Linked DNA regions of Homo sapiens. Changing the gene in region 3 together with the main gene of any one other region gives a genetic interaction. Each region holds a gene or a part of one and is shown on either strand. Other genes may lie near its edges.

Region 1 (3,973 bases), on a different chromosome or scaffold from region 3:
GAAATAAGGGATAATCCTTGGCCAAATTGTCAGAGGCATTTGAAGAGTAACCCTATCTTGAATAGGGGCTGGGTAAAATAACACCGAGACCTACTGGGCTGCATTCCTAGGAGGTTAGGTATTCTAAGTGCCAGGAAGGGATAGGAAGTCAGCATAAGATACGGGTCACAATAGACTTTGCTGACAAAACAGGGTGCTGTAAAGAAGCTGGCCAAATCCCACTAAAACCAAGATGACAAAGTGACCTCTAGTCATTTTCACTACTCATTATACAGTAATTACAATACATTAGCATGCTAAACGACACTCCTACCAGCGCCATGACAGTTCACAGATGCCATGGCAACCTTAGGAAGTTACCCTATATGATCTAAAAGCGGAGAACCCTCAGTTCCCGGTATTGTCCACCCCTTGTTTAGCATATAATCAAGAAATAAGTGTAAGTATACTCGGTCGCCCATGCCCCTGCTCTGCCTATGGAGTAGGCATTCTTTTATTTCTTTACTTTTAATAAACTTGCTTTCACTTTATGGACTCGCCCTGAATTCTTTCTTGCAGGAGGTCCAAGAACCCACTCTTTGGGTCTGGATCTGGACCGCTTTCCCATAAGAAAAAGAAGGAAGGTAACTAACTTTGACTGAACACCTGATACGTGCTAAATGATTTCTCAGACAAGATCTTATTTAAATATTTCTAAATGATTTGATGATAATGTTAATGGCCTTCTGGCCCCCAAAAGCACACTGCCTCTTGGTCCCAAATAAATGAGGAAAATATCCAGTTTGTGGAATAGAGGGGCAGGTAAGTAAAAAAAGAAAAAGAAATGCAAAGAAGGAAAGATATACATGAAAAAAATGTCATACAGAGATAATCAGCTCTTTTCCAACCAACCAAAGTAAGAGTTCTTTTTTAACTGCGCGGTTACAACTAACCAAAACTCAGGAAATAACTCCTGGAAGCAAACAAACTTAGCAGTGAAAAACAAGCGCGTCCAGTAACACCAGAAAAACACGTGGCGGGGGTGGGGCATCTGGTCGCAACCGCAGGTGAGACTCTAAGTCCCATCATTCCCTTCGGCAGCCAAGCCAGGCTGTTGAGGGCGAGCCGGCGCACCGTACGCTGGGACGTGTGGTTTCAGCTCGTGCGCCTCCCCGTGGGTTTGCGACGTTTAGCGACTATTGCGCCTGCGCCAGCGCCGGCTGCGAGACTGGGGCCGTGGCTGCTGGTCCCGGGTGATGCTAGGCGGCTCCCTGGGCTCCAGGCTGTTGCGGGGTGTAGGTGGGAGTCACGGACGGTTCGGGGCCCGAGGTGTCCGCGAAGGTGGCGCAGCCATGGCGGCAGGGGAGAGCATGGCTCAGCGGATGGTCTGGGTGGACCTGGAGGTGAGTGAGGTCGGCGGGGGGCTTGGGGAGGCGAGTGAGGTTTCGCTCGTGGAACCGAGGAGTCGAGCCCGTCCTGGGAGAGCGTTGGGGGTCTGGGTCTCAGGTGTGGCAGGTGAGCGCGGCCGGCCACGGGCGGTGCAGGGCAAGTCCGGAGGCAGGAGTCCTGCGGGTGTTGGGCGCCGTGCTGCGCTGTAGGGCTTCTTTCCACAAGGGAGGAGTCCTCCGTGTGGCTTCTTCTCCTCCCTACCCCTCCGCCCAGATGTGGACTTTTCCTAACGCTCTGGCGTCTCTGGGCTTGGGTCACTGGAGTGGGGGCGGGGGCAGCGGCTCTGTTCCCAGCTTCCCCCAACTAAATCCTTAAAGGACCCTAGGTTGTTAGGGCCAGACGGGACTCCGGAGATGACTCAGCCTTACCCCTCATTCCATAAGTGAGAACATTGAGGCCCACAGAAAGGATTCAACTCATTCAAGGTCGTGCTGTTAGTGAGAGTCTGAGTTGAGACCAGAACCCAGTTCCTATCCCTTCAGGCTTTCCATGCCCGAAACAAGGGCTCCTCCCACCGTTGAGCCTCAGTTTATATGAAGTGAGGATAATAACAGTAGTTTTTCCATTAGATTGTGAAGGTCCAGTGGTGTAATTAATGTGAAAACTTTGTAAACTCTGCAGAGACGTGGTGGTGGTAGTTATCCAACTCTTCCAAAACTGAGTGATGTCAGCACTCAGTTTTACTTACTTTGCATCTGTCCCGGAGTAGAATCTCAGTGCTTGACAAATAGCAGGCCCTTGGTAAATGTTTGTTGAATAAACGAGGACTCGTGTTTAGTACCTTCAGTAGTTGCCCGAGGAGCATTCTTTCTCTTCTGTTTCGGCTATGGATTACAAGCTGACTATGTTTGAGGGAATTCCTGTTAAATAAACTTGGGTAAAAGAGGCCAGAATGATGGCTTTGTGTGTGTTATATATTTATTTTTAATTGCAGATGACAGGATTGGACATTGAGAAGGACCAGATTATTGAGATGGCCTGTCTGATAACTGACTCTGATCTCAACATTTTGGCTGAAGTACGTGATGCCATGTAATACAGTCATACTTTTTAAAGGGCACTGGAAATATAACCATCATTTTTTCCAGCTTCTTTATTTAAAAAATAAGAAAGTTGAGGTCTATATGGGTTAAGGTAATGTGCTAGGTCATGGTAGGGGTGGTACTAGAACCAAAGTAATCCATCTCACAGCCTAGTGAAAATTAAAAATTAAACATTATTTTTTAATTAACCATGCCAGAAATTTACAGAAACATAAATTCTGTCGTTTACTGAGCGCTTACTGTATGCCAGCTACAGTTTCTGTGTGCTTTATATGTCTTTGTTCTTAGTTCTCACAGCAACTATAAGTTAGTTATTGTTATAATGCTCATTTGATGGATGAGGACACTTGAGCATAGAGATGTTGGGTAATTTGTCTGAGGTCCCAGTGGCTGTTTACTGGGGGAGCCAAGAGTTTAACTCAGGCTGTCTCAGTAAGGTGCTCCTAACAAGTAGGACAGCCAGCTGTCCTCCCATCAGATTTGGTGACTCGTGCCAATGTTTGCGTCTTTATATCATAACCTTGACTTTAACTTGACTCCATATTTACAATTCTGCCTTTTCAACTAGGACATGTGATTCTTCTAGATCAGTATTAAGATTTTAGAATTTCTGTTAGTGCACACCCGTAAAGTGTTCTGTTGTTGACAGATTGGGCATGATTAAGGTTTTTGCATGCTACTTCCAACTGAAACATTTAGCAAAACAAAACACACCTGCTGCATTTCAGCCACTCATGAAACATTTAATAAGGATGTGACACCATCTGGTAGGGGGTGAAATCCCTGACCCTGAATAATTCTGTTTTATACTGTCAGCAGTATTCAGAGCCAGAAACTCCAGAATAGGAACAAAGTAGGGATGTTTGTGGAAAAGAGAGTCTTGTTAAAATAAGTTCCTAGAGGGTAGCATTGATATGTTACTGGCACTGGATACATTTCGTAAATCTGCAGTTAACACTTTTGTTTGTTTTGCTGTGTAGGTAAAAGAGGTGAGGACGTATTTCTAGATTAATGACTGCGTTTGTGGAGTACCAGGCTTATCCTCCCCACATATCAACTGTAGGAGAATCATGAGACTTTGTACTTCTCATCATAACAACTTTTTTAACTTTGTATAAATAAAGCCCTGAGTTTTAGATTTGGTTGTTTTTTTCTGTTACTTGGGATTTATTGGAGATCAATAGTGAAGAGAAGTGTCTTTATTTTACCAGTCTAACTTACCCTTGGCCGAAGAAGAGTGTTTCCTTTAGACTGTTGATATAATGTGAAATACTGACAGTTTAATGGACCCGTAGGTTGATATGTACCCTGGAGGAAATTTGGGTATGTATTCACACAGCTGCAGATGAATGCAGCATTTGTAAATGGACTAAGTCAGATGAGGATAAAGATGTTAAAAAAAAAAAAAAAGCTTAGGGGCTATCAGTTCTGCAGTATGTTTTATTCTTTTATAAGAGTCTGAGAAAAATGTTTTATGCTGGTAGAAGAGCAGGCATCCTACT
Region 2 (3,500 bases), on a different chromosome or scaffold from region 3:
TGAATTTTTTTTGGTTAAAAAAACAAAATTTGCCATCTGTCATACTCTATAAAAATACCAATAATAAAAATCCTGTAAGGAAAACTAGGAAACTATAGTCTTATGTGGGGGAGACTTTTCAGCATTAGAAAACTGGAAGCTATAAAAGAAGAGATAGCTGTTTGCCTTTTCAGATGCTGAAACTTTGTAAATGGTAAAAGACATTTAAGTCAATTGAAGAACACCAGATTATGAGAAAATATGCAGTGCAGAGGAAAAATAACATTTAATTGTGAATTTCATATTTAGGAACTCATAAATAAAAATTAGCCAGGCCTTGTGGCACATGCCTTTAGTCCCAACCACTCAGGAGGCTGAGGTAGGAGGATTGCTTGAGCCTGGGAGGTTGAGGCTTCAGTGAGCCGTGATTGTGTCACTACGCTGCAGTCTTGGTGACAGAGCAGGACTTTGTTTCCAAAACAAAACCCACAATGAGATACTATTTCACATCTGTTAGGATGGCATCCGTTAAAAGATAAAACAAAATAACAAGTGTTGACAAAGATAGGGAGAAACTGGAACCCTTGTACACTGTGGTGGGAATGTCAAATGGTGCATCTGCTATGGAAAACGTTATGGCGGTTTCTCAGAAAGTTAAAGAATACAACTATCGTATGTTCTAGCAGTCATGCTTGTGGGTATATACCCAAAATAATCAGGAGGAGGATTTACTTGCACACCCATGTTCACAGCAGCCTTATTCATAACAGCCAAAAGGTGGAAGGAACCAAAGGCTCCATCAGCAGGTGAATGGATAAACAATGTGGTATAGACATACTCTGGGATGTTATTCTGCCTTAAAAGGGAAAGAAATCCTGTCCATTGCTACATGGATGTACCTTGGAGGACATCATGTTATATGAAATAAGCTGGTCACAAAAGGACAAATACAGTTGATCCTTTGTATCCGTGGGCTCTGCATCCATGAGCTTAACCAACCACTGATGGAAAATATTTGGAAAAAAAATTTTTTTTAAATGACAGTACAATAATAAAAAAATATGAATTAAGCCCGACGTGGTGACGCACACCTGTAATCCCAGCTACTTGGGTGGCTGAGATGGGAGGATGGCTTGAGCCCAGGAATTTGAGATCAGCCTGGGCAACATAGCAAGACCCCTTCTGAAAAAACAAAAAAAAAAAACAAATTAAAAAAATATAATCTAATTACTTACATCCGTAGCAGTTACATTGTATTAGGTATTAGGTAATCTAGGGATGATTGAGAGTATGCAGGAGGATGCATGTAGGTTATATGCAAATAAAATGCCATTTTATATAAGGGACTTGAGCATCCTCGGAAATTAGTGTTGGGGAGTGGTCCTGGAACAAATCTTCGTGGGTACGGTGGGACTACCCTATTGCATTCCACTTACATATAATTGAAGGCATATTTTTTGATGAGTAAATATTATGTGACTATCTAAAAGAAAAGTTACTGTTTAAAAACATAACTGTAGGGCCGGGCACAGTGGCTCATACCTGTAATCCCAGCACTTTGGGAAGCTGAGGTGGGTGGATCACCTGAGGTCAGGAGTTAGAGGCCAGCCTGGCCAATATGGTGAAACCCTGTCCCTACTAAAAATACAAAAATTAGCTGGGCATGGTGGTAGGCGCCTGTAATCCCAGCTACTCGGGAGGCTGAGGCAGGAGAATCACTTGAACCCAGGAGGCGGAGGTTTCAGTGAGTCGAGATCGCACCACTGCACTCTACCCTGGGCAACAAGAGTGAAACTCCGTCTCAAAAACAAAAACAACAACAACAGCCACAACAAATGTAACTGTAATGGTATACCTTCTCCAGAAAAGCATACCAATTCTTTAAATATTACCAGAGATCCACATCCAGTCAGGGTTCTGATTTCCCTCAATGCTCTCTTACTATTGTGTTTTGTTTTGTTTTGAGACAGGGTCTCGCTCTGCTGCCCAGCCTGGATGGTGTCCAGTAGTGCGATCATGATTCACTGCAGCCATGACCACTAGGCTCAGGCGGTCCTCTCACCTCAGCCTCCTGAGTAACTGGGAGTATAGGCGTGCCCCACCACACCCAGCTAATTTTTGTATTTTTTGTAGAGTGGGGGTTTCACCATCTTGCCCAAGCAGGTCTTGAATTTCTGATTCTGATCTCAAGCGACCTACCCGCCTTTGCGGCCGCCATTGTACCCAGCTCTTTTGTTTTTTAAAAAAATATGGGCTGAGATGGGGGGATCACTTGAGGCCAGGTGTTCAAGACCAGTCTGGTCCAACATAGAGCATATCTGTACAAAAAATAGAAAATCATAGCCAAGAGTGGTGGCACAAGCCTGTAGTCCCAGCTACTCTGCAGACCAAGGTGGGAGGATCTCTGGAGCCCAGGAGTTTGAGGCTGCAGTGACCCATGATAAACGGCACTGTAATCCATCCTGGGCAACAGAGCTAAACCCTGTCTCAAAAAAAAAAAAAAAAAAATAGTGGGCTGGGCACGGTGGCTCACACCTGTAATCCCAGCACTTTGGAAGGCCGAGGTGGGCAGATCACCTGAGGTCAGGAGTTTGAGACCAGCCTGGCCAAATGGTGAAACCTCGTCTCTACTAAAAATACAAAAATTAGCTGGGCATGGTGGCAGGGGCCTGTAATCCCAGCTACTCGAGAAGCTGAGGTGGGAGAATTGCTTGAACCTGGGAGACAGAGTTTGCAGTGAGCCGAGATCATGCCATTACACTCCAGCCTGGGCCACAGAGCGAGACTCTGTCTCAGAAAAAAAGTGTGGTAAAAAGCACATCATAAAATTTACCTTCTTAACCTTTGTTTTGTTTTTTGTTTGTTTGTTTGTTTGAGACGGAGTCTCGCTCTGTTGCCCAGCCTGGAGTGCAGTGGCGCCATCTTGGCTCACTGCAACCTCTGCCTCCCAGGTTCCAGCAGTTCTCCCACCTCAGCCTCCCGAGTAGCTGGGATTACAGGCGTGTGCCACCACGCCTGGCTAATTTTTGTATTTTTAGTAGAGATGGGGTTTTACCATGTTGGCCAGGCTGATCTCGAACTCCTGACCTCAGGTGATCTGCCTGCCTCAGCCTCCCAAAGTGCTGGGATTACAGGCATGAACCACTGCGCCTGGCCTTTTTTTTTTTTTTTTTTTTTTTGAGGTAGAGTCTCGCTTTTTCGCCCAGGTTGGAGTGCAGTGGCACCATTTCGGCTCACTGCAACCTGTGCCTCCTGGGTTCAAGAGATTTCTCGTACCGGTTGGGCACGGTGGCTCACACCTATAATCCCAGCACTTTGGGAGGCCGAGGTGGGCGGATCATGAGGTCAGGAGATCGAGACTATCCTGGCCAACGCGGTGAAACCCTGTCTCTACTAAAAATACAAAAATTAGCCGGGCATGGTGGCACTCTCCTATAATCCCAGCTACTCGGGAGGCTGAGGGAGGAGAATCGCTTGAACCCAGGAGTCAGAGGTTGCAGTGAGCCAAGATCGCCACTGCA
Region 3 (3,500 bases):
AAAAAACATTAAAGACCCAAGATTATTATCTAATCCAGAATTCTATAAACTTTATGACTTTAAGTAATTAAGCTTACCGGTTTCGTACCCTTCTCAAAATCAGATGGCATGTCTGCAATGCCTTCAAAGTCTGAAGCAAATGGTGCATAATGAAATGGATAATACCACTTCCAGGAAGCACAGCCCTAGAATCATTAAAAAAGTAACAACAAAATCAAAAACCTATGTTAATGATGAACACAATTAAAAAAAACAAAAATTAGACTGTTAACCTATAATATTCTACTTATAAAACACATGACTTCTGGCATATATTCCAAATACTGATCTTTTCCATGACTCCTAAAAATTCCTTAAGTTTGAAGTTTCTAATTCATATCAATGGCTCTTTGACTTTAAAAATGCTACAAAGCATCTTTGAAAAATCAGTAGTTACTGCCAAACTTCATATTCACAAACACAATTTGGTAAGATTTTTATCCTTAAAATACATTTGGTGACATTTCTTTCCATCTCTAGAGCTGTCATCATCAAGTAAAACCAAAAGCAGTCACAGCAGACATTTACTGAGCATGTAAGGTGGTTAGAGACATTATTGGAACAGCAGTTGAAAGTAAAACAGCCATGAGTTTCATTTTAAAATTCACCATTATATTTTCACCTGACAAGTTTCTTTTGACTATAAAAACATGTGAGTAAACACAGCAAAAAGAAAACAAAAGCAAGTTATACTCATAGGAAAGAGATATCTAAGATGTGTTAAGACAGTGTCTAGTGAGTTGAAATCTTGACAGTAGGAGTAAAACGCAAACAGAGTACTTAACGGTCAATACTCAGTGCACTGTGTTACTTTCTACTTGTCAACAAACTTCATCTATTCCCAGGTCACACCAAATTTAACTTGGTTTGCTCTCTAAGCACGAAACCAGATATTAACTATCAGTGTTACAGTCCTCAATATGTCTACCTAATCTCTCACCAATCTGACATCTCAATTATCAAAAGGTAGGATACAGGTTATTCCAATTAGAATGTGCTTCATGTATCATCACTATATTATGAAAAGCGTAGCATTCAAATTCCTTTAGAATTCTTATTTGTATTTTCCAGGGTTTGTCCTCTGTTCAGTCATTCAGTGACTGTCAATTCATTACTCAGTTATTTTTAAACTCCAATTTAAAAAGCACTAACCTTTCGTCATCTTAAAGACAAAGTGCAGTCAACCACATTACTTGATCCTGAAAATACTTTTAACAAAAATTAGCTTTGTTTCTATATTAATATCTAAGAAACTTCCACGTCTTCAGAAACAAATATTTACAAATACGGACTTCTGAATAGGGAGCTTTAAAAAATGAGCCTGGGTTTGTTTTCAAGATCCAGCTCAATAATACTATTATTACAGAAATTACTGGGCTGGACGCAGTGGTTCATGCCTGTAATCCCACTACTTTAGGAGGCTGAGGCAGGCGGATCACGAGGTCAGGAGTTTGAGACCAGCCTGACCAACATGGTGAAACCCCGTCTCTACTAAAAATACAAAAATTAGCCGGGTGTGGTGGTGCGCTCTGTAATCCTAGCTACTCAGGAGGCTGAGGCAGGAGAATCGCTTGAACCTGGGAGGCAGAGGTCGCAGTGAGTTGAGATCACGCCATTGCCCTCCCGCCCAGGTGACAGGGCAAGACTCCGTCTCAAAAACAAAAAACAAACAAAAAAAAAGAAATTACTATTTTTCTTAAATGATTAACTACAAATTCAGAGGAAAATATTCTTTTTGTACCTGGTAATAATATCTAAGAACCCAGCAAAGTCCTTCAACGTACGACTGCACAACTTTCCGACGGAATTTCTCATCAGCTGCATCCACATCAAATTTGTTCTTGTAGTACCGCTGCTTCCAGCCAGCTTCCCATAACCTAAAACCAGGCACAGCTCATTTATGCTGAATTAACACACCTTCAGTAACAGGCTGTCTACTAATTTATACCCCAAATCAATTTATATTTAATACCCAGGGGAAATGTGAAAGAGTTAAACAGTCATGCTAACACAGATTCATTTAACTATTTCTAAAAAGTCTAATTTCATAGGATTTATTATCAACTTAAAGACAGTTAAACACACCCCAATCACTGATTCTGGTAAGACCATTATAAAACCACATTTTCAAAAATGTTATTGAAAAAGATACAGAACACATTTGCTCAAATTTTAATACTACTTTATATGTTTCTTTGTACAATTCTAAAGCTACATTTTAAGATTCAAATATTGAAGATATTTTAAATAGTTCAAGTTCCTTAGTTTGTTAAAATATATTTAAACCATACAAAGAAAGTCAACTAAATTACTTAAGACGCACACAGGTAACTTTTTTAAATGTAAAAAAATAGTTTATAAAAGAATAATCTAGACATTAGGCAGAAATTATGTGTATACCTACTCTCTCTATCCTTGCTTGGGCCTTATCCCTCTTTCAGCTAAGAGTTGTTGATGGCTTAAGGAAAGGAGATAGAGATATATATAGAGAGACATACACATTCTATATCTCTATATATCTATGTATACATACACACACACAAACATATGTATGTTATGGTAAAATCTAGAAGCAGGTCAATGAATCCACTAAATTATCATTCATCACTGAAAATACAATGTGACCAACCACATTTTCATCCAATGTATTATTTTTTTTAAGAATCCATTTCTTATTCTCTAAGATTTAACATTTAAGGAACATAAAGAAGCCAAATAACACTTTACAAACATCAGAACAGATCAAGAACATCAAGATGATTCTCCATTTAGGCCTCTTTTCCATGTGCCAGATTTCACATATTAATTGCAGTCATGTTTCAGAATATACCATATCAATTTTAATCTGCCCCTCCCACAACACAAAGGAGTCACAGAATAACAATTAGAAATATCCCCCATTCATAAGGTGGATTATCACTATTTTACAGAAAAGGTTAATGAAAAAATGCTAAAAGCCCCAAGCATTTCTTGGTAGAGGCATTTCCTCTAGGATTAAACAATGATTTCCTCTAGGATTAAACAATTTCCTCTAGGATTAAACAATAAAATACTAAACAAATCAAGTTACCTATTAAACTAGTATTGATCATGATGGCTACATAGTAAACAAAACCAAAGACATGCTGTAAGAGGAAAACCCAAAGTACAGAAAGTAGAGGATAGAAACTAAAGATATACAGAGTAAATGTTCAATCACAAGTAGACATGGATCTGAAATCAAAGAATGTTAGAAAAATGTGCAGAACCACACGTGACCCTTGCAAAGTTTCTAATCATAAACACAAATCACACACTTTCCATGTCCTGTAAAAGAAGCATGAGCTGTAGGTGACTACTGTCTTGTTTACCTTTGAAATAGATCGTTTTCCTAAATTCTTAATGAGCTACAATTATTGAGATTGTTGGCCTTTTGCACTTGGAGCCCACGGTTCAAATCTGGATTTAATTACATGAGAGGT
Region 4 (3,084 bases), on a different chromosome or scaffold from region 3:
AGAAATGCAAGAAAAAAACAAATGTACAGATTGTAAAGTTTTTTGATACCTAATGTAAGTTTTCTTTGTGTAATATTTATATGATAAAAGACATTAGGATCCCTACAACACAAATGTCTTGTGTTTCTTCTGCTTCGTGACCCCGTAAACACTTTACCTGAATTTTTCCTATATTCCACAGCTAAGACCACTGCCCTATTCTATTAATCAAATTGAGTTTTCCTGGAAGGAAAGGCAAAGCAGCTATTCAGTTTAAAATTTTCTACATCTTTTTACAACACGAAGAAGTAACACTACAGAAATATTCAATCTCTTTCCATCTTATTCATAACTTACAGTGGTCCCCAAATATTAAGTCTATAAATACTTAACATTAAAGGAGACAGACTTGAGGTTGTCCCTTCTCTGTGGCTTTTAATTCCACAGTTTCATCTAAGCAAACTAGCATGTAAAGAAGAAATCCTTTGAAGCTATGGATAAAATTGGTAACGACAGCTCAATCCAGGTTACAGACCTACTCAGGGCAATTTATTTGTGGTCATGATTATTTAGAATGATCAGACATAGCCACAATTTTCCCTTAATCCCCAGCTAATTTTTGTTTAACCACACCAATGAAGAAAGAGGAAAAATTTCAGTCACTCAAATTCCTCTGTGGAATGCATTCTGGAACATTTAGATGGGGGTGTATTTATCATTTGGGCAATTCATAATACTTCATACAAAGTAATAAAGTCACACTGACAGCCTGATCCTGAAGGCAAGATTAAACTGCCTGCTCACCTTCCCCAATTTTCATCCCCACATTTCTCTAACCTGTGCTCCTTCCAAGGTATAGATAGTATCACTGCTCAGGACATTTTTCTGGTCACAAATTTTTTTTAGGTTGTCATGCCTCCTCTTGTCACAGATACAGGTAATAAGATGTTTTTTATTTAAAATGTTTTCCTTTTTCTGTTTAATGAGGCAAGGTTTCCCTGATCTGCAAAACAAAAGTAAGTTCAAAGAAAACCCTTGTTTCCCTTTTGATGTGTGCTTATGAGTAATAGTGTGGTGATTATGTTATAGACAGAATACATGCTCTTTATACGGTCGAGAGGAAAGATGACTACTTTAGGCAGAAACTCCCAGTAAGATCATGTCTATATTTGCTATTAGGTACCAGGCTGGACAAAAAGAGAAGAAAAAAGGGGAAGGACAATGAGGTAATTAAAAAATGAAATTGAGAACCAGGCAAAAAAGAATGAAAAGGAGGTATCAAAAAAAGTGTTGGATTTTAGGAAGCAGTGGAGTGCCATTCATCATACTCCATGTCGTATTGCACTCAATTTATAAAACATTTTCACACTATGGCCTTTCCCATTAAGGCCCCAAATTTCCTTCCTGCTATTCCAGATACTGCTCAGCAAACTGTTCTACAAAAGAAATTTTTACTGAACAAAGATTATCAGGAAAATCCCACCTTACAGGAAAGAGTAAAATATTAAGAGTCTACCTGATTCAGCTTTTCATTCAATTAAGGTTTATAGGAATGTGTACATAGGAGTGGTTTCAGCTCCAACACGATTCCAGGAGCAAGTGCTAAACTTTGATAGGAAATAAGTGATTGTAGTGAATAACCCAAGCAGCACTCCTATAAAGGTACAAAGAAATCTTATGGAAAATCTAATGAAACTGATAAACTATTGTTTCTGCCATATTTACCATAAACCTTTAGTGGTAAAAAAGTTGAAAGTAGTTGTAAATCTCCTTCATCAGCAACTAATGCTACCAAAAAAGAAGTGAGGCAGAAATGTAAAGGTTTTAAAGAAGATTTTTAAACAACTCTTGAAATATTTTACTCAAGTAGTTTTTTTCTTAAAAGTTTTTAAAAATTATTTTTCAGAGTTCATAGCTACTGATAAAGGTATTTTCTTAATTATGGAAAGCCTTTTTTTCAGCTATCACAAATGAAATTACATCTTTTCATTAAATATAAACACACAAAAAATAAATTTACAAATAACCAAAAAATTTTATATTTTCCTACCTTGAACACATTTCTTCAAAGGGTTAGCTTGAAAAATACATGTCTAAGATTACAGAATATTCAATAGTTACTTTTAGGGTTTTAACATTATTTTAGATTTTACCACAGAGTTTACCAAAAAAATAACAACAAAAAAACCTGCTAAACATCAAATACCACTTGTCCACTGGGAACAATTCAGCTTTCTATCAGTTGAGTTGGTTAGATCACATTAAGTTGTTATGTATAGGTATTGACCAGAAGCCTACAATGAGATACAGATTTTACACTAAGATTGAAAAAATTTATGGTACCAGCTCTTTTTCTCTTAACTTTCTACACTAAGAGAAAAATACATTACTTGGCCTACATCTTAAAGCATTCAAAATAGGCCCTCTGTAAGTTTTTAACAAATTGTATTTGTATTTAGGTCTTTAAGAAACAACCTGAGATGATGGTAAGTGTCTCATTCCTCATTTGACAAATGAGGACAAATCACTCCTTGAGAACTAAGGTCATTTCAATCCATAGCACCCCTGACCTAGTGCCATGATTCAAATTCACAACTCTTGATAGCTAAGACTTTGACTGCTCCAACTAGCAAATCACATATAGCCATTCCCTAACTTTGTGTTTCCCAAATCTAGCTGTGAATCAGAATTACCACAGGATGCCTTAGCCCTACCCTTGATCTACTGAAGCAGAAAATTACTGCCTTAATTCTGTGTGATACAGGTCAGCCTGCCTTTTAATATTTGGATATCTAAAGTGAGAGCATAAATGATGAAGAGACCAGTTTATAGGACTATTTCTCACACCGTCATGTAAAGTTGGTATGTGTCTTTGCTCCATTAAAGTATTTCTGACCTCAATCTTAAACTTTGCTTTGTCAAACAAAATCATGCTGATTTCAAATCCAATTAGAAAATAAGTATGTACAGTAAAAAGTAAACTTGGGCTTCAATTAATGAAACTTTAACAGAAACATGGCTAGAGAGGAATCTCCTCCTATAAGAGAAAAAAATGATTCACAACAACTGCCTACTAAATACAACTGGAAGTGCCTTTCCCTATTT
Region 5 (3,500 bases), on a different chromosome or scaffold from region 3:
ATTTAGGTACATGTTCACAGTTTTAGAAAGGAGAAAGAAAATTGTATCTTCCTTTTAAAATGTTAGCTATAATCTATTGAGTCCTTGAAGAGGAAAAGAAAATCCTATCTAACACCATTTCTGTGTGGAAATAGATTCATTATTTGAAGTTTATTTGTCTGTTATTTTTATAATCTGTTTATAGACATGCATAATGTGGGGAAGGGGAGTATGAAACCTATCTGTACCTAAACTATAGAAAGGGTCATGTGCATAAGAAGAAAATTACAAATCCATGAGGCAATCAGAGTAAACTAAAATGCTGCTTTAGTTAACTATTGTCTTCTGTGCATTACAAAACTCAACTCAAAATTACATTAGTGTTGTAAGTTAGAGGTTTCAAATTTTACATCTTCAAAATTTACAGTAGTTATTCTAGAATCCACGAGAGTCACTATCTGCCTAAATTAAAGAAATGTAAAGAATCAAGTTTTATGCCAAGAAAAGTTGAATAATTACAATGATAAATACCTTGTTTGTGGACCAGAACTTTGTGTTTGTGCAAGAATTGGAGTTACCTCTCGGCTATTTCCACTCTGTGAGAAGACAGACTTTGTTCCAGTTTGGCCGATTCTGGCAACAGACTGTAAAACACGAAAAGTCTAAGGTTTGTGAATTATGGGCTGCACTGTAAATGATAAAAGACAACACAACGCTCCCATCTACATTTTCTCAATACAAGCAGCCATAATATACTGTCACCTTAAAGATAAACTATTTATATCATATTGTTAATTATTGTTGTATTAGTATGAACATCAGTCTATTTCCCTGTTTTAATCTCACAGTATTTTTACCTCTATAATGTCTTTTCATCTTTCGCTTTTTGTTTCAAAGACTAAAAATCCCCAGAAGCTATTCTTTTCATCTCATTGTGACCATCCTCCATTTATTACATACCTTCTCTATTTGGGGTTAAGTACTAAAAAATTTTAAGACAGCTAAATTCTCAAGATTTATGATTTATCTCATTATACACAGAAAAAAATAATAATACGATAAGATTTTATACTCCTTTGGCACTTGGTAACAGTTCTAAAGGAGTTCAGAGGAGTAGATTTTAAAAAAACAACCATCTGATTACTTTCCAAAACCTAAGGATATTGTTCTTTAGAGTTAATATTGCTTAGTTTTTCTAATCTTCATTAATTGGTTTCTGTTCCCTTGGAGAAAAAAAAATCTTTGCTTGGCTCTTCAGTCTTCTCTAATTTATTCCCTTATTTCTATTCATTTCCACCATCTAGCTTCTTTAAATGATCTATGACTATTGTATCAGTGCACTGTTTTTCCCCTTTGGCTACCAGAGAATTTTCTTCAAAACTTACTGTTACCCTGATGTCCTGTACACAATCCTCAAACTGCATATTATAAATAATCACTAATAATCACTGTCTCATCAGATATTAAAACCTTATTTTAGCCTTTCCTGCATTCAACATCACTGATCATGCCCTACTTTTTGAAACTTTGTGTTACTTCCAAAACATTACATTATTTGTCCTGCCACTTCATTTGCTGGCCCTTTATCCTTCTACTATTTTTAAATTAGGTTTACTCTGTTCTCCTTAGCTACTCTTTCTTTCCCTAGGAGAGCCTGGTCATTTTAATAGTTTCAATTATTATTTCTATCAGCAGGTCACATTTTTTCCTCTATGACTAACTTTCTACTGAATATTTTCATCTAATGTACCACCACTTCAAAATAAAACTTCATAAGCCTTCCTCCGCCTTTTCCAAATTGGGATCACTACATTCATCCAAGGGACAAAAGTCAACTCTGGCTTTTCCTTATTTATCAAAGAACTATGTACACTGCACTCAATACCTGGTTTGATATTTTCAGTTGACACTGCATGCAGACCTACATGCGTGACTTTTCTGGGAATGTCTTGTAATAAGGTAAGAGGAGAACAGAGGCAGAAGAGGATGAGAGAGCAATCTTATCTGGGCACTAAAATCATGTGCCTGCCCACTGTCTTAACTTGCTCTGGTTATTATGGTTATTATGGCTCTTCTAGTTTTGGCCTACTTCACCTGGCATGCTAACTACCATTTTGTTTTGCCTTCTTCATAACTGTAATGTTTAAAACAATCCATACACAAACTATTTTGCAGTCCCTTTTAAGTATTCTTGGAGTTCCTATTATCACTCACTAAGGAGTTATTATAGAAAAATCTTTTGCAGATTCTAAGGATGTTCAGGAGTAAAATAGTAAAAAAACAACTATAAGAAGAAACATGTTTCTATTAAGGTAAAGAGAGTATAACTGTTATTCACATATTAGTATGACTTGTTTAGCTTCCATTTCTTGAATATTTATGAAGCATGGCAATAGGTATTTTATATATAGAACCTAATTTAATTCTCACAGAAGTTACCTTGTGCCACAGATATGCTTTTTAAAAATGGTATTTTGGCCTCTATTTCCATATACCTATAAAAGGGAACATTATAAAACAAGAGCCTCAGCAGGGCAGTGACTCATGTTTATAATCCTAGCACTTTGAGAGGCCAAGGCAGGAGGATTGCTTGAGCCCAGGAGTTTGAGACCATCCCTGGCAACACAGTGAGATCCTGTCTCTACAAAAATAAAAGTTAAAAAAATTAGCTGGGTGTGGTGGTGTACACCTATAGTCCTAGGTACTTGGGAGGCTAAGGTGGAAGGATCACTTGAGCCTGGGAGGTAGAGGCTACAGTGAGTCATGGTCACACCACTGCACTCCAGCCTGGGCAGGAGAGCGAGACCCTGTCTCAAAAAAAAAAAAAAAAAGCCTCATGAAACTTGCCGCAATATTTACTATAAGTATACTACCAAATATTTTTCATTTTCATGTTAAAACTATACATCCATGATCTACCAAAAATCTTATTATCAGAAATATCTGGCTTTACCTGAGCAAATTTTTTTTCATATAATTATTAGTGTTATTAAAAAAACATATATACACAGTGGTAGGGACAAGTAAAAACTATGGCAGACATAATTTCTGTTATTTATAGTCAAGTAATATAAACAATATTAATTTTGTTTTTTAAAAAGGAAATTAAAAAGTAAAAATATGATTATGTTTATTTAACTATATGCTGAAATAAACTAAATTTGTGAGATACAATCTTACTTGGCCAAAAGAGTAAGAAGTCTGTCTCCTACTGTAACCAAGAGGCTACAACAATAATGACATTCTTTTATATTTAGATCACCCTCTACCTGCTGGGTTCAAATATAAGGCAAAAGCAATTACATAAAGTAAGATTTTCCCTGAGATTACCTTTAAAAGATTGAAATAAACAAGTTGCTTTAATCAATTCCCAAACTGCATTTTACATGGAAAATACCTTTTTTGAAGGGGCTCCGGTGGATGGCACATCAATTACAGGAGGTGTATTAGTGTAGTTTTGTAAATAGGATCCATCTCCAGGACTTGGGGTTTCTAATGGCAAAATCCCAAAACTGAGAAGA
Region 6 (3,500 bases), on a different chromosome or scaffold from region 3:
AAGAAACAAGAGTTGGCCAGGCGCAGTGGCTCATGCTTGTAATCCAAACACTCTGGGAGGCCAAGGCTGGTGGACTGCTTGAAGCTCAGGAGTTTTGAGACTAGCCTGGGCAACACAGTGAGACCCCATGTCTCTACAAAAATATAACAAATTACTGGGTGTGGTGGCATGCCTCTAGTCCTAGCTACTCAGGAGGCTGAGGTGGGCGGATCGCTTAAGCCTGCAAGGTAGAAGCTGCAGTAAGCTGAGATTGCACCACTGCACTCCAGACTGGGCGACAGAGTGAGGCCCTGTCTCAAAAAAAGATGACAAGAGGAAAGAATAAAGAGTGAGCCATATGTTGCTAACATTCCAGATGCTGTGATGAATTTACCTAAAGATTCCATTTATTTCATAAACTAACAATTTACTAGGGAAAAATTCTACTCTACTCTAAAAACATTAAGTCCCCCCCTGCACCCTCCTCCTAAACCACTTGGATTATACAGTGAAATCACAATAAATATCATCTCATTTGAAGCCTTTCATGAAATGTAAAAAATGCCTTAACAACACCCAAAAGAAATTAGCTTCAAATTAAATGGGAAAGTCAGGAGAGCATCTAACTAGGTTTATGCAGCCTGGAAAGAGTTAATGTTAGCATAGAACTATATTTTGAACTAATGTACTAATACTATACTACAGTATAGTAATGCAGTCGGAAGTTTTTTTTTTTGATGGGCTAAGGAGTTACACCATTGTGTCAGTATTATGCTTAATTGACAGGCAGCCCAAATGCAGACCCCGTCATGGAAGATTAACTTAAAAGACTCTCTCAAAACACTAAAAAAGCCTCTGAAGATTTCACTCACGCACCAACTGCTAAAGCTCTATTGTCAAAATCAGCTCTAACTTTAAGAAAAAGTAAATTTAGGCAGTTGACTGCTTCAAAACCAGTTTTTCATCTTACCCGATTCCCAACATGACGCCTGCGAGTAGACATGGGAGAATGGCTGTGGCTGTGCCGTCTACGATAATCTCGACTGTAAGACCTGCTACGTGATCGTCTATGGGAGCGGGAGCGAGACCGTGACCGGGTATAATGCCTTCGGGAGCTTCTTCTGGATCTAGACCTGCAAGACAAAGACCTCCTAAGGTTATGACTGAAAACAAATATTGTCTTCTTTATTACTCTGTTCTAAAGTTAAACTCCAAAAGAGGGAACAATCCAGGAATATGCTAACATGGTTACCAATTTAGTAGGATCAATACTTTTCTTCTCTAATTATTTAGTCATTTCAACTTTGCTAGGAAGCGTTCTAAAAACCACAAGCTCTCCTCCAGTATTTCTTCCAATTAAAGACATATTACTTATCTTTTACAAATCAAGGCACGCAGCATTTTACTAGCTTGGCTTGTGCCCATCTTTCCCCCTCAGAAGACCATTCTCTACTTTTCTGTCTCCCATTATGCCCACCATTAATTTAATACAGTAACAAAATCACAAGGAGTATTCCCCAGCAGTTAAAAAAACAAAAAATTGAGTGGCTCTTGACTAACTAGAGTGACTCTAAATTGTCATCGAAACGAGGACACACATTTAAGAAAAGGGGTGCTGTTAATTATGCCTGACCACAGGCATAAATGGTATCGCCCCAGGCAAACCAGGATGTATATATAGCCTACTTTTGACCAACATTAAAAAAAAAAAAGCGCACCATATATATACTTATTTATCAAGAATTCTAATTACTGAAAGCCAATGTTCTGCAGTATATTTGCCATACTAGTAAGCAGTTTACTTACATTTAGTAAATCCTCACAACAACCCTGAAGAACTGGTACTGTATTACTAATTTGCCTTTTATAAAGAAGCTAAAGCTGAAAGGTTAATCTGCCCAAACCAGCAAAAATAGAAAACCCTGACTCCAAAAGCCCAGGCTCTTAACCGCTTTTAGTCTTGCCTCCCAGAACTTAAGTTCACTTCTAGTACCAATATTTAATAGGCCAACAAATAATCTAACCCTCTCTACCTTCCTGGTTTACAAAACACGCACCAATTTCAGAGCTAAGAGTAACGAGGAAATCTCAAGACAGTCTTTCTTACCTAGATTCAGATCGGGACCTGGACTTTGATCTGGAACGCCTGGAATCTTCCTTGGAGCGAGACCTTGCAGGGGTATGCCTTGCAGATTTCCCCGATCCGTGAGCACTTCCACTTCTGGAAGCAGAACGGGATTCCTACACGTAGATGTTAAAAGTTTAATTTGCACACTTTCTGGGCAACTTTAAAAACAAATAAGCTGCTGTGAGATAAATGGTGAGGGACAGCAATCCCCTTCCAAGATAAGAAAATATAGGTAAGGGCAGGAACTGAATATACCTGGTGTTAATAGTTTCATTGCTCCAAATGACATAAGTCAATTAACTTGTCCTTTCTTCCACCTTTTTGGAGCAGGGATAAGAGTTATTTGACCCCACTTCCTTCAGAAAGGGGTGCCAAAGTCAAGCAGTTAAGGGAACTGTCCAAGGACTGTGTTTCAGAATGTTACTCCATAAAGACTAGGGTGAGGCGGAACCTTATTAACTATGACACCTATACTTTATACCTATTTCAATCAAGTTGCAATCAATAAAACAAAATCCTATATAATTTATATAATTTACTTAAAAAAATGCTTGATTTTTAAAAAGACCTTGACCTTTCAAGTTACTACTTATAATTCAGTGATAAGAGATAAAGATGATGATCTCAGTTTCAAATCCTAGAGAAAAGCAGAAACCTAGTGGAAAGCAAAGGCTAGCTTGAAGGACACTAAACCCTGTAAAACCCTATTGCATCTAACCATGGTGGGAGGCCCCCTAAAAAACTGAAAGCAACCAGATGGAGCTACAACAGAACAGCGAACTACACACAAATAAGAGTAGAGAGGGTGTCAGAGATCCTCCACAGCTTCTCCAGCTAAATGGAGATGAGCCAGGGCAAACTTATGGAAAACCAGGAATTAACCTAACTTACCTAGTTACTTAAGTACACATCAAAACCAGGCAGCTAAATCAGGAGCTCCTAACCTAGGGCCCAGGAAGCAAAAGAGTACAGAAACTACATACAAAAGCCAAAGTTTAGGTAAACATTGTGTACTCATAGCTTTCCCAACCAAAACTGGGATTGGCTGGCAGGTTAAGGGGGGATTTGTAATGAAAAATAGCAAAGGAATGGTAACCAGGATAACTAGGTCACCAACGAGCTAAAGACACATAATCAACAAAAGGGTATACTAAGTAATGAAACCAAGGAAAAGTTCTGCCAAGGCACCAAAACAGTAGATGAGGAAAGGACAGAACCTACTCCTAGTCAGTCTGATAGCTAGGTAAAATTATCAAGGCAACCTTTATTTTAGGTTATCAAACTTAGACAAAGTAAAGCCTGGTAAGCCTTTCTACTCCAGAGAGCAGAAATGGCAAGACTCAAAAGGAAGCAGTATTACAGTAAGTCACTATATGGCATGAATCAAAGGTGA
Region 7 (4,104 bases), on a different chromosome or scaffold from region 3:
AGAATGCAGCACTTTTCTATAGTTATTGAACATTGAATATCTGAATAAGCAATACTAGTTTCACATTCAGAATCTTCAGTATTGCTAGTGAAATCCAAAAGCAAAAAGTGCTGAAGTCTTATTTTTATCTAGAGACATCTTGGTGGTGGTCACTATGGCAATGGCAATAAGTTCTTAGATCGTAAGATTTTCAGAAATTTGAATTCTTAGTCATTTTCAGGAAAAAGTTAAATTGAGCAGTTGAGGGTTTTTAAAGCTTTGCACACATGCATGTTAATACAGAAAAATTAATTTTTTAATTAATCAAATTCAAGTTAGCAGCCCTTAAGACATCATAAAAAGGTAGAGTACTGACTCTGTGCAACCAGTCATCACATCTGGAAAAACATGCAATGGGCTGGTCTTAGTGATTCTGAGATATGGAAATCCAAGGAACTGGTCTTCCTAGGATAGTGGAAATTTAGTCACTAAAAACATACCAGCACTTCTTGTAGGTGTTCACAGTCCTATTTTTGCTTGTTTTCAACAACATAACTTTGTCAGCTAAAATGCGGAAACTAGTTTCTCAGCCATCCAAAAATGGTTTAGTCTTTTAACAGGGAGGGAATTAGCATCCACTGACCATCTTATCTATTATGATGGATTTACACACATTCTCACCTAATCCTTACATGTTAACCAAGGACTCCTATCCCAATTTCATTTCTCTTAACTTTTCAGTTTCCTTGTCTATTGTTTTATTTGTACAAGGTCATGGACTTCAACATAGGTATAAATCCTAAAGCCAATGCCTCTCAGAGGGAACAGGAATGATACATTATGGAATAAATTTAATACTCTCCTTCTTTAAAATGGAGAGCTACAACAGTAGGCAGGTCTCTGCTCTCAAACTTTTCAGGCACATTGAAATACAAATGAATATTAAAGAAGCGCTATCAAATCAATGAGCTTGGATTTCAATCTTGCTCTCTTCTGCCTGAGCTTCTAACCTCAGCTAAGTACCCTCATCTCCGTTAACTCTGGTTCCCATAGAAAGAGTGGATAATATCTAGAATTTGAAACTTACTCCTGAAGATAAAGGCTCATGAGAAAATGTATTTGAAGGATTTTAAAAAATACACAGACCTATAACTTCTGCCCTGAGAATGGTGATTTATATTTAGAATGTGGCTAATAACAAGCAGAAAAGGCTGGTACTAGCTATTACTAGAACCAAAGAATTTTAGAGTGGGCAATCTTTTAAAGTAGTAGGCCCTTCTTCCAATTAAAAGATGAGGAAACTACTGGACATGGTGGCTCACACCTGTAATCCCAACACTTTGGAAGGCCGAGGCGAGTGGATCACTTGAGATCAGGAGTTTGAGACCAGCCTGAGCAACATAGTGAAACCCTGTCTTTACTAAAAACACAAAATTAGCTAGGCACGGTGGCTCACGCCTGTAATCCTAGCTACCTGGGAGGCTGAGGCACGAGAATCACTTGAACCGGGGAGGCGGAGGTTGCAGTGAGCTGAGATCATGCCATTGCACTCCAGCTTGGGCAACAAGAGTGAAACTCCATCTTAAAAAAAGAAAAAAAAAAAAAAGAGAAAACTTGAGTTAAATTATTTTATCCAAAGTCATATTGGTACAGGCAGAATAAAGACTACATGTCCAAGAAATAAAACATTTTATGTTTTCTGGAGTGTGCTTCATTTAAGTGAAAATGAACTTTTTGGGTGTGATTTACTGCTCTTTTCAACTTCTGAAGTGGGACTAAATAGAATGAAATATGAAAATCTCAAAACCTAAGTACTCCAGCCGTGACTTAGTAGACGTATTTGTAATATATTTTTGCAACCTCATCTCATAGAACATCACTAAGCAATGGTGATGGTGGTTAAACCAATATATAAATACATTCGTCAAAACTCATCAAATTGAGCACTTCAAACTTATTAATTTTATTGCACATAAATTATATCTCATAAAAAGTAACTTTAAACAATTAGGTGTGGGAATGTAAACTTGCTAAAAGTAAGCTCCTCGAGGAAACACCGCCTTGTTCACGCCCATATCCTACCCCCGGCACTAGCACAATGTTGCTTGTGTAATATGTACTTATGAATGAATATTAGCGCCCCCGAGGCTTAGACTGAACAGGTAAACGTTTAAAAAACGAATCATACGAGGGATACTCTTTTCACCAAGTTATTGATAAAATCCTCGCATCAATTTAAATTCTGGTAACTTTAAACTGCATGTAAAGCAACTGCAGTCAGCATGTGCTGTACTATTTCAGAATGATTGATTTCACAGTGACCCAGATTCCAATATTCACTAGCGCCTTTCACGACCCATGAACCCTTCCTCCCCTAGGGAGCTTGGCATTTATGCAGCCTGCCGGCAGGCTACACCCCCCCGAACGCGGAGTTTTGTGAGCAATCAACGCACTTCACGTGTCTCCTGGGCGGTGGGACCGGAGTTCTGATACAAAGAGGTCGAAGGACCTGACCAAAAGCCCGTCGCACGCCAGTGCCTGGACACCCGCCCGCGGGGACGTGCAAGACCCCCCGGCCCACGCCCCCACGGACACTGGGGAGACATCCGGGGAGCACTGCTAAGCCATCCACCTGTCAGCCTCAAGTCCAGGAGGAAATTCTGTGATAGCTGCTTCGCTGCTTGCAGTCTTAACAACTTAATGATTTCTCGAATCGTGGGCAACGGAGGGAGACGGCAAGTGCTGAGTTTTCCGGAGGCAGCCATGATACGCGGCAAGCACCATCCAACCCTACCTCACCCAGGACCTTCACCGCCGCTCCGAAAGAAACGCGCAGGGGAGGAACCTGCGAGACCTAAGGCCCGCCTCGGAGTCAGCCCCATTGGTCAGACCTATCCCACCGGAAGCGATGACCGCGGACAGGAAATTCCCGGCGTGCTGAGAGCGCATGCGCTAAGTCCTGCCGCGAGAAGGGCAGGCTGGGTGGTCGGCGGCTTCCGCCTGTGAGAGCCGGGGGAGAGCCGGGTGGACTAGGCTTCTCCTGGGCGGGCTATGGGGAGAGCGCCCAGGAGGGCGGGACGAGGCGGGGCCTGGACAGGGTGGGGTTTTTCGGAGGAGTTGCTCTGAGAGGTGCAGCCGGTTTACTCCCGCCCTGAAGTTCCCAAGGGCTTCCGGCTCTTTAACGTTCTAAATACCTGTCTGTGAATATTAGAGGAAAAGCGGGTGCTTAGAGGCAAAGCTACTGTTTGTTAGCAATTCTTTCTTACTGTGAGGCGTTTTTAGAACCGCCGCTCTGCAGATGCTGCATGATGGGTTTTTAACTTCGTTCAGCCTCAGTTTTTTCATCAGTTAAATGGAGCTAATGTCTACCTCAAAATTGTGAGCACTAAATGAGAGAGATCGCCTGGTGTGCACGTTCAGAACATAGTGCACGCATGGCATTGGGTAAGCTCCCACGTGATCAGTGGTGGCTGTTATTATTTGGCAGATGAATAATTGGCCAGTGTAAAGAGGTCATTCGATTTGCTAGGATTACAGCTAAGAACAGAGAGAAGACTGAAATATGAGTTCTGTCTTTCCGTTATACGAGATAAAAACAACGAAGCAAAAAAAAAAAAAAATTAAAGTTTCTCTGATAGGTGGGAGAATTTTGCTGTTTTAACCCTGCTTATGTTTGGACATTGCTGCGTTGATCACAAATGAATTTTAAAGTTTCTGTTCCTCAATTAGTAAGTTTTTAAAAAAGCTAATGGAAAACGAAACAACTATGGGTATGGATATAAAAATGAGGAGTACTTTGAAATTCCAGTGGAAAACTCAACCACCTTCTATAAAAGCTGTTTTAAAAGGAACTGAGATAATCTCCTAGCTTTAAAAAATAGTGATGACTACCATAGAGGTAAGGAGATTTGCCCAACGTGGCATCAAAATGTAGACTGGAAGTACAAACTCTTGATTCAGATATCTTATCGTCCAAAACACAGTATACCTGACAAAGCATTATTTCACAGTTATATTCATTATTTCCCGTACTCCTCACAATGGTCCCATGTGAATGAGATTATTATTCTTAGTTTGCTGTGAAGAAATAGGGGAGGTGAGGTCATTTGACAATGCCCAGAGTCA

What was found.
Region 1: changes in XRN2 (region 3) and REXO2 together harm fitness more than expected from each alone (negative genetic interaction), as found in Homo sapiens cells (one large-scale study listed by BioGRID).
Region 2: changes in XRN2 (region 3) and NUDC together harm fitness less than expected from each alone (positive genetic interaction), as found in Homo sapiens cells (one large-scale study listed by BioGRID).
Region 4: changes in XRN2 (region 3) and FAM98B together harm fitness less than expected from each alone (positive genetic interaction), as found in Homo sapiens cells (one large-scale study listed by BioGRID).
Region 5: changes in XRN2 (region 3) and CDC27 together harm fitness more than expected from each alone (negative genetic interaction), as found in Homo sapiens cells (one large-scale study listed by BioGRID).
Region 6: changes in XRN2 (region 3) and TRA2B together harm fitness more than expected from each alone (negative genetic interaction), as found in Homo sapiens cells (one large-scale study listed by BioGRID).
Region 7: changes in XRN2 (region 3) and TFB1M together harm fitness less than expected from each alone (positive genetic interaction), as found in Homo sapiens cells (one large-scale study listed by BioGRID).

The regions. Positions count from the first base shown.
Region 1 is NC_000011.10:114,438,294-114,442,266, forward strand, and holds the start of REXO2 (oligoribonuclease, mitochondrial precursor), read left to right. Parts: upstream 1-1,173; 5' UTR 1,174-1,235; coding exon 1,236-1,382; intron 1,383-2,362; coding exon 2,363-2,446; intron 2,447-3,973. UniProt on the Homo sapiens protein: 3'-to-5'exoribonuclease that preferentially degrades DNA and RNA oligonucleotides composed of only two nucleotides. Binds and degrades longer oligonucleotides with a lower affinity.
Region 2 is NC_000001.11:26,928,243-26,931,742, forward strand, and holds part of NUDC (nuclear migration protein nudC), read left to right. Parts: intron 1-3,500. UniProt on the Homo sapiens protein: Plays a role in neurogenesis and neuronal migration. Necessary for correct formation of mitotic spindles and chromosome separation during mitosis. Necessary for cytokinesis and cell proliferation.
Region 3 is NC_000020.11:21,344,831-21,348,330, reverse strand, and holds part of XRN2 (5'-3' exoribonuclease 2), read right to left. Parts: intron 2,498-3,500; coding exon of another isoform or gene 2,449-2,497; exon of another isoform or gene 2,438-2,448; intron 1,917-2,437; coding exon 1,781-1,916; intron 186-1,780; coding exon 78-185; intron 1-77. UniProt on the Homo sapiens protein: Possesses 5'->3' exoribonuclease activity. May promote the termination of transcription by RNA polymerase II.
Region 4 is NC_000015.10:38,485,127-38,488,210, reverse strand, and holds the end of FAM98B (protein FAM98B), read right to left. Parts: 3' UTR 501-3,084; downstream 1-500. UniProt on the Homo sapiens protein: Positively stimulates PRMT1-induced protein arginine dimethylated arginine methylation.
Region 5 is NC_000017.11:47,151,296-47,154,795, forward strand, and holds part of CDC27 (cell division cycle protein 27 homolog), read right to left. Parts: exon of another isoform or gene 3,492-3,500; coding exon 3,377-3,491; intron 642-3,376; coding exon of another isoform or gene 624-641; coding exon 511-623; intron 1-510. UniProt on the Homo sapiens protein: Component of the anaphase promoting complex/cyclosome (APC/C), a cell cycle-regulated E3 ubiquitin ligase that controls progression through mitosis and the G1 phase of the cell cycle.
Region 6 is NC_000003.12:185,924,515-185,928,014, forward strand, and holds part of TRA2B (transformer-2 protein homolog beta), read right to left. Parts: intron 2,221-3,500; coding exon 2,087-2,220; intron 1,113-2,086; coding exon 950-1,112; intron 1-949. UniProt on the Homo sapiens protein: Sequence-specific RNA-binding protein which participates in the control of pre-mRNA splicing. Can either activate or suppress exon inclusion. Acts additively with RBMX to promote exon 7 inclusion of the survival motor neuron SMN2.
Region 7 is NC_000006.12:155,311,685-155,315,788, forward strand, and holds the start of TFB1M (dimethyladenosine transferase 1, mitochondrial), read right to left. Parts: upstream 2,801-4,104; 5' UTR 2,745-2,800; coding exon 2,612-2,744; exon of another isoform or gene 2,433-2,611; intron 1-2,432. UniProt on the Homo sapiens protein: Mitochondrial methyltransferase which uses S-adenosyl methionine to dimethylate two highly conserved adjacent adenosine residues (A1583 and A1584) within the loop of helix 45 at the 3-prime end of 12S rRNA, thereby regulating the assembly or stability of the small subunit of the mitochondrial ribosome.